3 linked regions of the Homo sapiens genome follow. The protein of the gene in region 2 interacts with the protein of the main gene of each other region in a pairwise test. Each region holds a gene or a part of one and is shown on either strand. Other genes may lie near its edges.

Evidence for each region. Proteins that work in one complex are often made in the same cells at the same time.
Region 1: the proteins of MAB21L3 (region 2) and ZNF165 interact in binary tests that used the Homo sapiens proteins (3 or more experiments, as listed by UniProt).
Region 3: the proteins of MAB21L3 (region 2) and BEGAIN interact in binary tests that used the Homo sapiens proteins (3 or more experiments, as listed by UniProt).

What each region holds. Positions count from the first base shown.
Region 1 is NC_000006.12:28,076,513-28,083,604, forward strand, and holds the start of ZNF165 (zinc finger protein 165), read left to right. Parts: upstream 1-4,055; 5' UTR 4,056-4,458; exon of another isoform or gene 4,459-5,018; intron 5,019-7,092. UniProt on the Homo sapiens protein: May be involved in transcriptional regulation.
Region 2 is NC_000001.11:116,135,377-116,138,664, reverse strand, and holds the end of MAB21L3 (protein mab-21-like 3), read right to left. Parts: 3' UTR 516-3,288; downstream 1-515.
Region 3 is NC_000014.9:100,584,381-100,591,527, forward strand, and holds the start of BEGAIN (brain-enriched guanylate kinase-associated protein), read right to left. Parts: upstream 3,038-7,147; 5' UTR 2,911-3,037; coding exon 2,869-2,910; intron 1-2,868. UniProt on the Homo sapiens protein: May sustain the structure of the postsynaptic density (PSD).

The DNA of each region.
Region 1 (7,092 bases), on a different chromosome or scaffold from region 2:
GGCAGGCAGTGCCCCCATACCAATGGGAACCAAAGTGACACCAGTATGGTGTCATCCACCCCTATCACTGTAGAGTCTACGACTCCTCCCACACTGGGCAGAGGGTCTGGTACAGCTCTCCTGGAAGATTCCCAAGGAAACCAAAATTATTGTAGCAAGGCAGAGTTAATACCAGCTTTATTATGCCAGAGAGTGGGAGACGCCCTATGTGTTTCTAATAAGTTTTTGTCATTTCACTGTTAGCTTGAGTTGCCTTCTCCTTTTGCTGTTATATCATTCCCACTGGCACCTGGAAATCCTTCCAAAATGTTTTCCTGGCCTGGGGCCATCACACAGCCCATCTGCATGGCCAACCTAACTGCTGAGTGTTTGGTCTTATGCCCTTGAATAGCCATGTAGGAACTCCATGGTGGACTGAGCCACTACTGGGTAAAGACTGGATCTCTGTACAAACTTGGATGACCGGACAATGCATATAAATAGGTACCCTAGATTCCTCTAACACCACACATGCAAATGTGAGTGATTGAGATAGGACATTGAACAACTACAGACAAAATTTAAGTTTTTCCCTAAACATGTCCCATAGGAGGCAACCATCAAAGTGAAAACTGCCCTGAAGAGCACCAGGTTCTGGCAATGGAGATCATACTGGCAAATGTGGGATGGCTTTCTTTAGCTCATCCTTACAGCAAGGATGCTCTCGAGTTGCATAGATCTGTTGGGAACAACATAATCACTCTAAAGACATTCAGGTAATACCTAAGGTATTCTCCTAGTACCTAGATTTCCTCCCAATTGCCCAATGCCAACACACCATTATCCTTAAGGTCACAGATTGATTTGTCACAAACAGTCTTGTAGGCCAGGAATATACTGAATTGCCCCAGATGGCACCCAGTGGCTCTCTGCTACTAACCTCCAGCCCTGGCTTCCCCTGGGGTGGCTTGGATGACTCCAGAATCTCTGGCACCATTCCTGTATCCCTCAATGAGTCCATCTGGAGAGGTCAGTGGAGTAGACCTGTTTTTTCTTGGTGGGATTACTTATTGACTATATTTGTGCCTCCAGGAGGTTCTTCTGATACTGTGTAGAAGCTGGAAGCCCTTCAGAGATTTGTCTCCACAGCTTTGAACAACACCAAACATGGTATGGAGGCCTTGAACATTGAAACAGCTGCAGTGAAAAAAGTGGTCTACAAAACCAAATGGCCCTAGAGATGCTGACATCTGTGCAAGGGGGAACCTGTGCCCTTTACAAAAGTGAACATTGTGTGTATATTCTAGACAAAGAAGCTGAAGTTAATCAATCCGTCCTTCACTCACGAAAGCAATTACAGCTTACTGACCACATAGGGTATGCCTGGTGGTCTACACAAAGTCATGTTTTCCAGGATGGGGTCCTTGGTGGAAAGCTCTGCTAGGAAGCCTTTTGGAAAATGTGATTTTAGATTTTGTCAGGTGCACTTGTATTTACTGTTAGTGTAGGTTTTGTTTGCAGTGTTTCATAAAGCCAGGGGAAAGAAATTGCCGATGATCCCACCCTTTCTGACCAGCTCAGGGAACATATAGGAAGAGATGGGCATGTGAGATTGTAAGAGCCAGTCAGGAAAATGGATTGCAGGATCTCTGACTGGAAATCACAGAGCCTTGACTATTCTGTGACTGAAAATCAGAGTGCCTTGACCTCTCTGTGACCTAGCCAGCTGCAGATTTTTTCCCAGCATGCTTGAACCCAAACTTGGGTCTTGAACATTCCCAGGCACTGATAAAGGTATCTAAGTTGTCACTGAAAACAGTGAAAGAAACTAGCTCTGGCCCTGAGCCAAATTCTTTAAACCCTTATATAAACTCCATACCCTGACCCCCTCACTGCAGACATATCTAGGTAGAATGTCCCTTTTCTCTCACCACCCATGGGGAGGATTCCTGCAACACTATGTAAGTTCCCTTAATAAATGCTTTGGACAGATCACCTTGGCACATAGTGCTCCTTTCTTTGGAATCCCAACCAGCCCCAACTAGGACGGTTTTGGGCACTCCCTTGTGTGAACTCCCCTGCCACCACTTTTGGGGGACAAAACAGTACATATCTAATAGAATCATCTTGTTAAAAAGCAAGGGAACAACAAATACAAAATTTGTGATAGTGTTTCCTCGGATGAGAGGTAGTATAGAGAGGGACTAGAAAAAGAGTAGTATTAAATCTAAGTTGTTGTCAATCTACAGTTCTTATAGACTAGGTAATGGATTAAAAAATGTTCACACTTTAAGGCCATGCATGGACCAATGACAGCCAGTGGTTTTAATTAATACCATTTTGAATATCTGAGTTCCACTGGGGTAAGGGGATGAATCAAACAAGGCCTCAGAAGAAAAGTTGTCTGGGAATGCAGGAAGGTTTTGCAGAGGAGATGAAGTTTCAGTTGCAACCCTGCTGCGTGGGCTTCAATTTCACCACCTGAGATTTAAATAGAGGCAGGAGTCACTCAGGCTAGAATGCAGTGGTGCAATCACAGCTCACTATTGCAGCCACCACCTCCTGGGCTCAGGCGATCCTCCCACCTCAGCCTCCCGAGTAGCTGGGAGTACAAGTGCATTCCACAACCCCCGACTAATTTTTTTTTTTTTTAATTTTTGTAGAGACGAGGTCCCAACTATGTTGCCCAGGCTGGTCTCGAACTCCTGAGTTCAATTAATCCTCCTGCCTTTGCCTCCCAAAGCGGGGAATTAGAAAAGTGAGCCAACACGCCCGGCCCACTAGTGTTAAAAAATAAAAACAAAAGCAATAATCTGACAGATAGAGCCAGGGAGGGCTATGAAGAGACACTTCTCAGGCTTGTATGCCTCATAAGAAAACTATCACATATGACTGCAAAACCCATCTTACACCAAAAATACCTCTGCAAGGACATCCGCCCAGCAACTGTTTGTCTAACCTCAGACTGGTGTCATCCTCGTTACCGATCTTTGTAGTCAAGAATAATGATTTCAAAACAATTAAATAATCCTCCCCATTCTTCCTTTAAAAACCTTTGTCTTCCTTTACCTCCCTGAATAGAAACATAGTTTACTCTGGCACGTCTATTCTTATTGCAATTTCCTATTCCCGAATAAACTTTTTTTTTTTTTTTTGAGATGGATCCTTGCTCTGTCGCCCAGGCTGGAGTGCAGTGGCGTGATCTCAGCTCACTGCAACCTTCACCTCCTGGGTTCAAGCGATTCTTCTGTCTTAGCCTCCCAAGTAGCTGGGACTACAGGCGCCCACCACCACACCCAGCTAATTTTTATATTTTTAGTACAGACGGGGTTTCACCATGTTGGCCAGGCTGGCCTTGAACTCCTTGTTAAATACAGTGAGTTCTAAATTTCTCTTCAAAGAATCAGTATGTCAGTATGTTCAATTCTTTGTTCTCCATTTTAAACTTTAACTTCCTCATTTTCCTCGTCTCCTTGCCTCTAGTTTCAGTAAACAACCTTTTCCACCAGTTCTAATCAGTAGTTCACATCTGTTCCCCTGGTGACCTGCTCCGTCCTGAGTCACCCCTGGTCACCTGCTCTGACCTGAGTCACCTTTAGTCACCTGTTCCGTAACCGTCCTTCCCACTGAAACTGCTCACCCTACCACTCCGGCTCATACCCCTGCTCTCTTTAAAATAGCCAATCGGAATTAACTTAGACTGTGCGGTCCAACCCTAGCCAGTAGGGGAACGACACAGCACTAGGGACTACCTGCGTCAGGGATAAGAACCCCTTCCCCTCCCTTGTTCAGGTGTGCTCTCGCCATTGCTCCATCCGTGAGACGCACCCTTCTATAGAAGTAAATTGCTTTGCTGAGAAAATGTGTGCTCGAGTGTGTATCTTTTTCTTCTTCTTCTTTTTCTGAGACTGAGTCTCACTCTGTCACCCAAGCTGGAGTGCAGTGGCGCGGTCTCGGCTCACTGCAAGCTCCGCCTCCCGGGTTCAAGCGATTCTCCTGCCTCAGCCTCCCGAGCACCTGGAACTACAGGCGCGTGCCACCACGCCCGGCAATTTTTTTTTTTTTTTTTTTTTTTGTATTTTTAGTAGACACAGGGTGTCACCGCGTAAACCAGGATAGTCTCGATCTCCTGACCTCGTGATCCGCCCGTCTCGGCCTCCCAAAGTGCTGGGACTGCAGGCGTGAGCCACCGCGCCCGGCCAACGTCATTTTCTTTTCAGGAGTCCCTTCTGTTATTTAGCAAGACACACTACTACAATGGAGAAAAAAGATGCCCCCTCCTTCAAGCCCTGAGATCTTCAGGACTTTGGCGAAAAGTCTGCGCCCGAAGAGACCCAGGAAGGATTCTTGGAATTGTAGTCCAAAGGCATCCCGCCTTCTGCGCAGACTCACAAGTCCCTGTGGACGGAATTCTTGAAGTGTAGCGCCGCTCAGTCCTTCCACCGGAAGTGTCCGATCGGAATCAGCCCTGTCCGAGAGGTGAGTCCGGGTTTGGGGATCCAGATGTCCAGCCCCGTGTCCCCCTCCAAACATCCAGTCCCTCTCATATTGCCTTTGAAATTAGCAGCCTCTGGGTGACCAGACCTTGGCCCTCAGAGGAATCCCGGAGAAAGGTAGAACCAGCTTCGGCGTTGGGAACGCAGGCGCGCTTACGCATTTAGTGAGGGTTTGGCGGTCTCCATAGTTACCGCCGCCGCGCGTGACGTCATAGTGGAGCGCTGAGGGCTTGGTGGCGTGGGGTGGGGGCTGTCCTACTGATCCTGAATTTGGGGTCACTGGTAAGAGGAGTTGCCCATTCCAGCCAGGTGGAACGGGGAGGGGTGCCACATGTCTCAGATCTGCCATTGTCTGCGAAAAGAAACTGCTGCGAGGACCATCCCCAATCCCCTGCTTCCCTTGGGAAGAGTAACCGCCGTTTTGTAGGACACTTGGGGACAACCCCGCTTGTCCTGAAATTTATTGACACGGTAAATAGTATTTCCTGTGTGCCGAGGATGCAGTTAAACCAACACTGACCCCCTGCCCTTGAGAAACACAAGGTACTATGGGAGCCTTTACCAGCATGCCCCTTGAAGTCTCTGTTCTGCTTTGTGGTCTCTACCGGATTTCCCCTGACTGTCTCCCTCTCCACCAACAAAACTCTCACCCGTCTTCCCCTCCCGCAACATGCCCACCAAGACATGTTCATCCATCAGGAGCCCTGCTCTTTAACCTCCAACTTTCTCATCATAATTAATTACTCGTTCCTCTCTGTTCTCCTAGCGTTTCTTCACACATCTGCTTACCCATTTTTGTAAGTCCTCCTAACACAATATTATAAGGCACTAGATGCTCAATCAATATTTATTAGTTTAAAGCTACCAGCTTTAGGGGGACTCGGTTTTAAATAGATGAGAAGTGATAAAACACCTGGAGATAGTACTGTCAGCTGAGATAACATGTCATAGAACCAGCTGCTCAGCATAATTGAAATTTCATTCGGATTATATGGGCCTACTTTACACCCATCTTACTATGGTAAATGAGATCATGCTCATTAAGCATTAGGACACTACTTGGTTAGCGCATCTAGGAAACATAACCAGAAATATCAAAGAAATGGCCCAGTAAAATATAAGGGATTGAGACTCTCTGGTTAATATACCATGGAACTAACCCCCCTTTTTTTTCTTTATCATTGATAAATTTTGTTCTTACTTATACTCAAATTGTTTGTTTTCCAAGGTTCAGTCTGAACCTAGTGATATTTATTTCATACTCTTGGAGAATTAATACTGTTACATATCTTCAACTACCCTTTTCATGAATCTTGTCTGCCAAGACAAGCTCGGTCATGGAGACCCTAACCCAGTGGCGCTAGAGGAATTAAAGACACACACAGAAATATAGAGTGTGGAGTGGGAAATGAGGGGTCTCACAGCCTTCAGAGCTGAGAGCCTTGAACAGAGATTTACCCACTTATTTATTGACAGCAAGCCAGTGATAAGATTTACTGAAAGTATTCCTTACGGGAAATAAAGGGATGGGCCGAAATAAAGGGATGGGCTCTGGCTAGTTATCTGCAGCATGAACATGTCCTTAAGGCACAGATCGCTCATGCTATTGTTTTCTGCCCTGGGTGGGCCAGGTGTTCCTTGCCCTCATTCCAGTAAACTGACAACCTTCCAGCGTGGGCGTCAAGGCCATCATGAGCATGTCACAGTGCTGCAGAGATTTTGTTCATGGCCAGTTTTGGGGCCAGTTTATGGCCAGATTTGGGGGCCTGTTCCCAACACTTGTCAAAATCTGTCTTCCCATTCCAAATTCTTTTCCATTATTGAAATATCATTGTTTCTGTTGGAAATATTTTTCCAAGTAGATGTCTTATTATCATCTTAAATACAGATCATCCAAAACAGAAGTCATCTGAAACTTTCCTAATTTTTCCTTTCAATCATAAATATGAAGCCTTAAGAACAATTAATAATGCATGATCCTTAACCTCATGGAACATCAATCAGTTGATAAAAAAACAGCCAAACAACTAAAAATAATACAAGGACTTATATATTCATATGTGTATGTGTTAGGAATTGTAAGAACTCAGACTAGAGTTGAGCAATTTCTTAACAGAGGCAGTAGAATTCTTAGTCACTCCAGCCATCACACCCTGCAAGTTGATCTCACCATCAGTCTGCTGCTCATTCCTACTTCCTCTACTCTGTTCCTTTCCTTTCTGAATCTTTCTCATCCTTTATTGTCCAATTTAAGCCCCATGTTAAATACAGTGAGTTCTAAATTTCTCTTCAAAGAATCAGTATGTCAGTATGTTCAGTTCTTTGTTCTCCACTTTAAAGTTTAACCTCATCTCCTTGCCCCTAGTTTCAGTAAACAACCTTTTCCACCAGTTCCAATCAGTAGTTCACATCTATTCCCCTGGTCACCTGCTCTGTCCTGAGTCACCCCTGGTCATCTGCTCTGACCTGCATCACCTTTAATCGCCTGTTCTGTAACCGTCCTTCCCACTGAAACTGCTCACCCCGCCACTGTGGTTCATACCCCTGCTTTCTTTAAAACAGCCAGTTGGAATTAGCTTAGACTATGCAGTCCAACCCTAGCCAATAGGGGAACGAC
Region 2 (3,288 bases):
TATTACATTTGCCACCTTTTCAAAAATGATGTTTCCTAAGATACAAGAATATGAGAATTAGAATACAAATTTTTGATGATTTAACAAAATGTTAGTTTGTTCACCATTTTATATGCTCTTTTTAAATTTTTTTTTTAGAGACAGGGTCTCCCTTCCGGTGACTCCGTCACCCAGGCTAGAGTGCAGTGGTACAATCAAAGCTCACTGCAGCCTCAGACTCCTGGTCTCAAGGAATCCTCTCATCTCAGCCTCCTGAGCACCACATCCGGCTAATTTTTAAATTTTTTGTAGAGACGGGGTGTCAGTGTCTGGCTATGTTGCCCAGGCTGGTCTTGAACTCCTGGTCTCAAGTGACCCTCCTGTCTCAGCCTCCCACAGTGCTGGGATTACAGGCATGAGCCACTGCACCAAGCCTTCATGTTTTCAAAAATTGTAAACTCATTGTTGGTTTGGAAATTTTTTTTTCAATATTTTAAAATCATTACTTATTAAACGATAGCCTAGGGACCCCACCATTTGGTTACAGTACTTTTTTTTTTTAATCATACTTTAAGTTTTAGGGTACATGTGCACAATGTGCAGGTTAGTTACATATGTATACATGTGCCATGCTGGTGCGCTGCACCCACTAACTCGTCATCTAGCATTAGGTATATCTCCCAATGCTATCCCTCCCCCCTCCCCCCACCCCACAACAGTCCCCAGAGTGTGATGTTACCCTTAATGTGTCCATGTGTTCTCATTGTTCAATTCCCACCTATGAGTGAGAATATGCAGTGTTTGGTTTTTTGTTCTTGCGATAGTTTACTGAGAATGATGATTTCCAATTTCACCCATGTCCCTACAAAGGACATGAACTCATCATTTTTTATGGCTGCATAGTATTCCATGGTGTATATGTGCCACATTTTCTTAATCCACTCTATCATTGTTGGATATTTGGGTTGGTTCCAAGTCTGCTATTGTGAATAATGCCGCAATAAACATACGTGTGCATGTGTCTTTATAGCAGCATGATTTATAGTCCTTTGGGTATATACCCAGTAATGGGATGGCTGGGTCAAATGGTATTTCTAGTTCTAGATCCCTGAGGAATCGCCACACTGACTTCCATAATGGTTGAACTAGTTTACAGTCCCACCAACAGTGTAAAAGTTTTCCTATTTCTCCACATCCTCTCCAGCACCTGTTGTTTCCTGACTTTTTAATGATTGCCATTCTAACTGGTGTGAGATGGTATCTCACTGTGGTTTTGATTTGCATTTCTCTGATGGCCAGTGATGATGAGCATTTTTCATGTGATTTTTGGCTGCATAAATGTCTTCTTTTGAGAAGTGTCTGTTCATGTCCTTCACCCACTTTTTGTTGGGGTTGTTTGTTTTTTTCTTGTAAATTTGTTTGAGTTCATTGTAGATTCTGGATATTAGCCCTTTGTCAGATGAGTAGGTTGTGAAAATTTTCTCCCATTTTGTAGGTTGCCTGTTCACTCTGATGGTAGTTTCTTTTGCTGTGCAGAAGCTCTTTAGTTTAATTAGATCCCATTTGTCAATTTTGGCTTTTGTTGCCATTGCTTTTGGTGTTTTAGACATGAAGTCCTTGCCCATGCCTATGTCCTGAATGGTAATGCCTAGGTTTTCTTCTAGGGTTTTTATGGTTTTAGGTCTAACGTTTAAGTCTTTAATCCATCTTGAATTAATTTTTGTATAAGGTGTAAGGAAGGGATCCAGTTTCAGCTTTCTACATATGGCTAGCCAGTTTTCCCAGCACCATTTATTAAATAGGGAATCCTTTCCCCATTGCTTGTTTTTCTCAGGTTTGTCAAAGATCAGATAGTTGTAGATATGCGGCGTTATTTCTGAGGGCTCTGTTCTGTTCCATTGATCTATATCCCTGTTTTGGTACCAGTACCATGCTGTTTTGGTTACTGTAGCCTTGTAGTATAGTTTGAAGTCAGGTAGTGTGATGCCTCCAGCTTTGTTCTTTTGGCTTAGAATTGACTTGGCAATGCAGGCTCTTTTTTGGTTCCATATGAACTTTAAAGTAGTTTTTTCCAATTCTGTGAAGAAAGTCATTGGTAGCTTGATGGGGATGGCATTGAATCTGTAAATTACCTTGGGCAGTCTGGCCATTTTGACGATATTGATTCTTCCTACCCATGAGCATGGAATGTTCTTCCATTTGTTTGTATCCTCTTTTATTTCATTGAGCAGTGGTTTGTAGTTCTCCTTGAAGAGGTCCTTCACGTCCCTTGTAAGTTGGATTCCTAAGTATTTTATTCTCTTTGAAGCAATTGTGAATGGGAGTTCACTCATGATTTGGCTCTCTGTCTGTTATTGGTGTATAAGAATGCTTGTGATTTTTGTACTTTGATTTTGTATCCTGAGACTTTGCTGAAGTTGCTTATCAGCTTAAGGAGATTTTGGGCTGAGACAATGGGGTTTTCTAGATATACAATCATGTTGTCTGCAAACAGGGACAATTTGACTTCCTCTTTTCCTAATTGAATACCCTTTATTTCCTTCTCCTGCCTAATTGCCCTGGCCAGAACTTCCAACACTATGTTGAATAGGAGTGGTGAGAGAGGGCATCCCTGTCTTGTGCCAGTTTTCAAAGGGAATGCTTCCAGTTTTTGCCCATTCAGTATGATATTGCCTGTGGGTTTGTCATAGATAGCTCTTATTATTTTGAAATACGTCCCATCAATACCTAATTTATTGAGAGTTTTTAGCATGAAGGTTGTTGAATTTTGTCAAAGGCCTTTTCTGCATCTATTGAGATAATCATGTGGTTTTTGTCTTTGGTTCTGTTTATATGCTGGATTACATTTATTGATTTGCGTATATTGAACCAGCCTTGCATCCCAGGGATGAAGCCCACTTGATCATGGTGGATAAGCTTTTTGATGTGCTGCTGGATTCGGTTTGCCAGAATTTTACTGAGGATTTTTGCATCAATGTTCAACAAGGATATTGGTCTAAAATTCTCTTTTTTAGTTGTGTCTCTGCCCGGCTTTGGTATCAGGATGATGCTGGCCTCATAAAATGAGTTAGGGAGGATTCCCTCTTTTTCAATTGATTGGAATAGTTTCAGAAGGAATGGTACTAGTTCCTCCTTGTACCTCTGGTAGAATTCGGCTGTGAATCCATCTGGTCCTGGACTCTTTTTGGTTGGTAAGCTATTGATTATTGCCACAATTTCAGATCCTGTTATTGGTCTATTCAGAGATTCAACTTCTTCCTGGTTTAGTCTTGGGAGAGTGTATGTGTTGAGGAATTTATCCATTTCTTC
Region 3 (7,147 bases), on a different chromosome or scaffold from region 2:
GGCTAGAGGGGAGAGAAGAGCCCCAGCAGCTCCTGACTCCTGCCGTACTGGCCAAGGTCCATGTCTCCCAGCAAACTGTGGACTCGTGGAGGGCAAGGTCTGTGTCAGACTCACCTAAGTGACCCCAATGAGCAGTGCAGAGTGGGTGCTTAGGTACAGCATGTTAGGTGAGTGTAGAATTCACACACTTAGTCATTCATCATTCATTCATTCATTCATTCCTATAATGATTAAAGCAATAGAGACACCTCTGGCCAGCTTCTCCCACCACAGGCTACAATCTGATGCCTGCTCTCAGGCCACAGAAGTCACTCCCCTGACTGTAATGGGTGTTAAGCTTCTGATACGGAGCCCTAGAGAGGAGACAGTGAGTCAGCGGCAGAGGAGGAACCAGAACCCAGGGCTGCAGACCTCCGTCCAGGCCTCTCCACTAAGGCTAGCGACCAGCTCTGCGGCAGGAAGGGGAGTCAGAAGAGAACCATGCGGGGTGATTCTAGACCAACACGGCGAGTCCTAGGGTCACCCACCCATCTGTCCCAGGGATCCTTACCTCCCTTAGGGGGAGGAGCCACACCTCCCCACCGCCATGGCTTCCACACTCCAGCAGGACACAGCCTCTCTAAGTCTTGAGACTTGAACACTCTACACTCTCCCCATCACCTTCAGGCCTTGGGCCAGGCTCCTGTAACACACCTTGACCCCTTCATCTGTTCAGCAACTACTCAGCCCTTGGACCCCACCTCCTGGGACCCTGGGTAATGATTTGTGGACTGTGTCCAATAGCCATGGACTCATGGGCTTCAGTCAATCCCTCCCATCCATCCATCCATCCATCCATCCATCCATCCATCCCTCCCTCCCTCCCTCCCTCCCATCCATCCATCCATCCATCCCATCCATCCATCCCTCCCATCCCTCCCATCCATCCCTCCTTCCCTCCCTCCCATCCATCCCTCCCTCCCTCCCTCCCATCCATCCATCCCTCCCTCCCTCCCTCCCATCCATCCATCCCTCCCATCCATCCCTCCCTCCCTCCCATCCATCCATCCATCCATCCATCCATCCATCCATCCATCCATTCATCCATCCATCCACTCTTCAGCATCAGGAGTGCCTGCAGGAGTAGGGAAGCTCCTTCAAAGTGTTGCCGTGGAGATGATGCGTGGAAATGCTGATCCAGGGCCCAGTACATAGCAGGCGTTCCATAAATGGCAGCTATGTGGGCCAGACCCTGCGCCCAAGTCTTGGGAGAGTGGATGGAAGATCTTCCAGATTGCTTAGGGCTCATTTCCTCTCTCCAGGCCTGGGCTCTGACAGGTGTCCCCCTACTCCACCCCAGCGCATGGAAAACTCATCCTCCAGGCTGAGGTTCTAGGCAGCCCTCCCCTCCCCACTCAGCTCCCAGGTGCGAACAGCTCCAGGTTTTGACGACAAACGGAACGCGGAGCCTTGGAATCTATAAATATGAGACAAAAGCTGGGGAGGGCCCTTGGCGGCAGCGCAGCCGCCCATCGCCCAGAGCCCGTGTGCTGAGCCCGGGCAGAGCCGCATCTGCCACAGTGCTTGCTTTTCCAAGCTGCCCTGATTATAGTGAGAGTCGGGAAAATTAAGGGTTTGCAGGATGCTGCTGGGGCCCTCTCTGCCGTCTCCCCGCCCTGCGTGTCACAGATGCCAGGCAGAGCCACCCCCAACGGCCAGTTGCCCCTGCTGGCAAGACCAAGGCCAGCCTGGCAGGGCTGCACACCGCAGTTTGTTAGGGGCTTCTGCCCACAGTCCTCGTGGGAGCCTGGCCCTGGGAGTAGTGGGGGTCTCTGCTGCTCTTGGCAGGCAGAGGAACTAGGGTCCAGAGAAGGAAAAGAACCTGTCCATGGCCTCCAGAGAGCCAGAGCACTGGGGCCTCCGACGGAGCCTGGCTGTGGAGACCCCGCCCCACCCATACCCCCAGGGCCTGGACCCCCAGTCTGCACTGGCGGCCGACCTTGGCCATGCGGACTTTGCACGTGCAGTGCTCCCTATCCATCCGGCCCCGCTCCCGGGTGCCCACTCTGCTCCCATTCTGCCGGCTCAGGAGACTCCAGCGCGTCGCCCACGCTGTTCCTGCCCTGAGGAAACCACATTGGGGATGGGGTGGGGCACAGACGAGGAAGGAAACACCTCTAAACCAAGCAGGAAGCGGAAACGCTGGGGCAGAAATTCCCATCCAACGTGCTGGGGCTCAGGGAGGGTGAGCGCGCCGGCTGAGCCGCTCTGGGCGAGGCCCTGGCCTCCCTGAGCCTCAGTTTCCTCGCCTGTAAAGGGGCAGGAGGATAGTACCTGCCGCGAGGTACTGAATGGGATGGTGGTGTCCGAGGTTCGTGCGCGCCCACGCGCTGCAAACGCTCAATGAGGCGGCCCCGGGTCCAGCCTCCTTCCGGCTCCCGGGCCTTTCTCCGGCCTCCCAAGCAGGGGCTGGCCCTGCCCCCAGACGCAGGCGGGTCCAGGCCTGCCCGCACCCTCGCCACCCGCCCGGGACAGCGGCGGGTCCCCAGTCCTCCGGCCGCGCCCTTGGTCACCCGTCCCTCCTTTCCTTCCGCCGCAGGGGCGCGCGTGTCAGGGCGCAAGGACCCCGCGATAGGACCCGGGCGCTCCCGGCGGCGCGCGGAGGCTGGGCATCCCCGCCCCACCCGAGAGTGCCCAGTTCCCAGGAGACCCGGCCCGGCTCCTCCCGGGCCAGTGAAGCCTCCACGGCGGGGGCGCAGCGCGGAGGGGAGCGGGGCGGGGGGCCGGCCACCTCCCGCGCTGAGCAGGGACCGCCCCAGGCGTGGGTGGCGCCCGCCCCGCCTCCGCGCCCGCGCCCGCGCCCTGCCCTCCCGGCTCGCAGGTACTCACCGCCCGGCGCAGCCGGCCCGGCCGGCGACCGCCAGTCCACATGGCCCCAGGGCAGCCGCGCCGCTCACCGCCGCCGCCGCTACCGCCGCCCCCTCCCCTCCGAGGCCGAGCGCGCCGGGAGCCGGCGCGGCCGGGGCTCCCCCACCCCGCCCGGCTTCCCGCAGGGAGCGCCCGCCCCCCGCCCCCAGCCCGGCTCCCCGCCAGCCCCGGCCCCGCGCAGCCGCGGCTGAGCCCGCGCGTCCTCCCGGCAGCGCCCGGCCGGGGCGCAAGTGGTGGGCGCAGGGCCGGGCAGGGGCGCGGGGGTGCGGCGTGCGCGGGGGCCAGGCGAGGAATGGCAGAGGGGCAGGGAATGAATGAACCCGCGCCAGCTTGAATGGCTGAGCGCGTGAATGAATGAGTGCGGTAGAGCATGCGGGGCTGGGGGGGCGGGGGGAATGAATAAATGAGAGAACTAATGCACGGGCGCGAAGGTGAGTGACAGAGTGAATGGGCCCTTGAAACCCAGAGGCTGTCAGTAATGACCTGCCCAACCTTTTCATCGGTCCATCCATTCAATCCCTCAACATTTATTAGACACCTAGTGTGTACCAACCAGCCCTGCTGTAGGCCCCAGGGGGTACAGTAGCGAGTGAAACCAAGCTCCTGCCCTCGCAGAGTCACATTTTACAGATGAGGAAACCCTGGCTCCCAAGGGTGCCTCCTGGCCAAGCTGCCCCTTACCCTGCCCTTGCTCTGCCCGAGCCCCCAGTCGGTGGCTTCCAGGGCTTGCCTTCTCCCCAAGGAGCTCTCAGGAAGGGAAGGTGGCTTCAGGAGGACCAGTGTTGCCCCCTGCCTATCCCTCCAGTCTGAAGCATCCCACCGACCTGCCCGGTAGAGCCCAGGCTGGCCAGTCCTACCCTGGTAAAGGTGCAGCGTGAACCCTCCTCTCTCCTCCCAGAGCGGGCAAGGGGCAGCCCTGAGGGTGCCAGCTACATGAGGGTCTTCCATCCCAGCCAGCCCAGCAGCAGCCAGCGTGGGAACCCGGGGAGGAGCACTGGCAGCCAGGGAGGGTCCTGCGTGGTGGAAACAGAGCTGGCAAAGCCCGTGTGCTTCGCTCATATCCTCCCTCGGGACCTATGGGCTCATGGTTCACACATGCTTATATCATTTCCAAGTACATGGCAGATTAGAAGATGCTGCGAATGAGTACCTTGTATATTTTTGTTTTTTAATTGTGGAAAACATGGAAAACATAAAATTTACCATTTTAACCACTTTTAAAGTGTACAGTTTGGGGACACTGAGTTCCCACTGTTGAGCTGCCATCACCACCATCCTTATATGCTGTATGTTGTATGCTTTGCAGTTTCTACGCTCTCTCATTTAATCTGGGGAGTAGGTTGCTACATTCAGGCAGTGTCAGTGCTGAGAAAAGGCACTGATAGCAAGGCAAGAGGGGAAACCCAGAAAAAAAGGAGACAAGCAAAAGAACCAGCAGCTGACTGGAGCCACTTCGTGTCAAGCAAAGTCCTGTCTCTGCTCCCTCTCAGGTCCCAGGGACATGATTGGGTAACCAATGGACAGAGGGAGGCGCCTCCAAGTGCACCCCACCACAGTCAAGACAAAATGAGAGGCGGCAGCTCAGGGCGGGGCTCTCCCAGTTTGGGCGAAGCGTGGACAGACTTCGCCCAAACCGTCGCTGGTGTGCACCACGGGACCAGCCTCTTTGCTCAAGGGGGCCTTAGTCTCCCCAGCAGGAGTAGGGACAGGCTCCCTGACCTCCACTCTGGCCTCTCAGGTTCAGACACCATTCAGGCAGCACACAGCAGTGGAGGCATCCTGTGAGAGGTAGTGAGGCCCAGCCTGCCAGCTCCAGTGTCCCTTCCCTCCCCAGTCCCTAAGGGGACAAACACCAATGGGGGATGTGGAACCTGGGGTACAGGCAGGGCTCTGCCCACATTGCCTCCTCCTGGGCTGCGGCCCTTCCCCAGAGGCTGGTCCTGCTCAGATGGTGCCAGAATGTTCACCGCCCGCCCTGGCACTGCTGCTGCCAACGCCACAGATGGCTGGGGAGGCGGGGGAGGGGCGGGTGGGGTGGGGGCGGCTCCTGCTTCAGCTCCAGCAGCTTGCAGGCTTCAGCTCAGGCCTGCCTGGGAAGGCCCCAGGAGAGCCCCTCCCCCATGCTGCACGCACCTCCCGTCCCCACCCTCCCTGCCCTCTCTTCTATCCTTCCCACTCCAGCCCCCTTAAGCTAGGAAGGCGGAGAGAAAGCAGGCATTGGTTGTGGGTCTGGGAGCATCCCTGCAATGCCCCTGTAGGGGAAGTGGTACTAGCCCCTTTTTGCAGATGGGGAAACTACAGTCAGTGCAGCAGAGCCTGGGGCATCAGGCAGGCTTCCTGGAGGAGGCAAGGTTTCAGCCGGGTTGGGAAGAAGGGATGAAAGTGGCAGGACTTCGAGGTGATGCCCTGGGGCCATGGAGGACCCTCTCCTCAGGCCCCTGCCCTCATTCAGACCTCTACGGACCACTCTGTTTGACATCACCATCCCCATGGCTCAATCTCGTTGCCCTATTTTGTTTTTTGCGTGTCTCTTACTGCGTTCCAGAGCTATCTGATCTGTCTGTTGATGTGGACATCAATCTCCCCGCTGGGATGCGTGGTCCTCTACTGTGGTCAGGGAGCAGGGCAGGAAGTGGCACCACACTGGGGCTCATGGTTAAATGTGCCAAAGAATGCATGGATGGATGGAGGTGGGGGAGATAGGAATAGCCTGGTGTGATGCCAGGCTTCTGGCCCTGGTGGCTGAGTATAAAAGAAAGGACAGCACGTCAGGGAAGTCATTGACAGTGAGGCACCCGCAGACAGCCACATACAGGGGCTCCAGCATCAGCTAGCCATGCTGACCAGTTCCCTGCCTCATCTTCCAATCCCCACCCACAAGAACAGATTGAGCAAGGGTTCTGACTATGAGCCCTAGAGAATGGGAAGGTGAGAGGTATCTTCCCACTCTCCCACAAACAACAGGTGCTCCAACTGAAACTCTGGAGTCCCCTGCAGAATCGGGCTACAGCTGCCCTCCACAGGTGGTGAGAAGGCCCTGAATTGGCCCAAGTGTGTATCTAACAATGACCCCAACTGCAATATTAACCCAAATTCCAACCTATATCAAATGCTAAACCTAACTCTAATGGGACCCAAAACCAAAGCAAACTTTAACCCTACCCCAATGCTAGCCTGAACAGTAACATGAACCCTAAACCCGACTCTAACCCCAACACTGTCCTGCCAGAAAGCAATAACCTCAACCCACACCACACGCTAAAGTTAACCCAGACGCCAACCCAAAACCAAATCCCAAAAGGAACATTAAACCAAACCCCAACCCAGCCCTAACCCTAACACTAAACACTGCCAAAAACACCCCAAGCACTAGCCCAAATCCTAACCATAATCCCAACCCCAAACCTAAGCCTAATCCCAACCTGACCCTAACCCTAATCCCAAACCAAATCCTAACCCTAATCCTAACCCCAGCCCTAACCCTAACCGTACCCCGCTGCCCTGTTCCTTCACCTGCTTGTCCTGGGAGCAACGATGAGGGGGGCCTGGGACCGTAGGAAGCGGGCACAGGCAGCTGGGAGCCTCGTAGGTGCTCTGTCCGAGGCAGGTCCCAGGCCCAGGGGTCTGGCCCACTGCTCCTCCTGGGGTGGTGCTGTGAGCCCCTTGGCCTCCACCCCACTGCCTGCCCTGCTCTGTCTCCATGGGAAGCAGCAGTGGCCTCCTCCCTGGGCCTCTGCCCCTGTCAGGCCTTTCCAGCAGGTGGAGGTGGTTTGGATGCTGTGGCTTGGGCTTCAAAACTGTAAATAGGGGAAACCATTTTCAAACAAATATTTGTCAAGCAAAATCCCATCTCATCTCAGTGTGACTGGGCTTATCTCTTTATGCCCTGGGCCTGGGTACGGAGGGCACCATCCTGGGCCTCCCATGCTTGAGCCTGGGCAAGGGGAGCGGACACAGAGCAGGGGATGGCACCGAGGTGGCCTCACTAAGACAGAAACTGCCACTGGGTGTGCGTGCTGCTGCGAACAGTCAGCAGGGGTTCACCAAGGCCACCTGGGGGTCTGGGCTCCTTCAGGGGCCCACCTGCTAGGTCCTGGGCCAGGCTCGGCCCTGCTGCTGCTGTGGTGCCCTCCCCAGCCAGGCTGAGCTCCGGCTACATCATCCCTGTCCATACCTTCTGTTTCCGGGTCCTTGCACAGGGAGTTCCCTCATCCTGAGATGCCCTTCTGTGGAGTGTCCA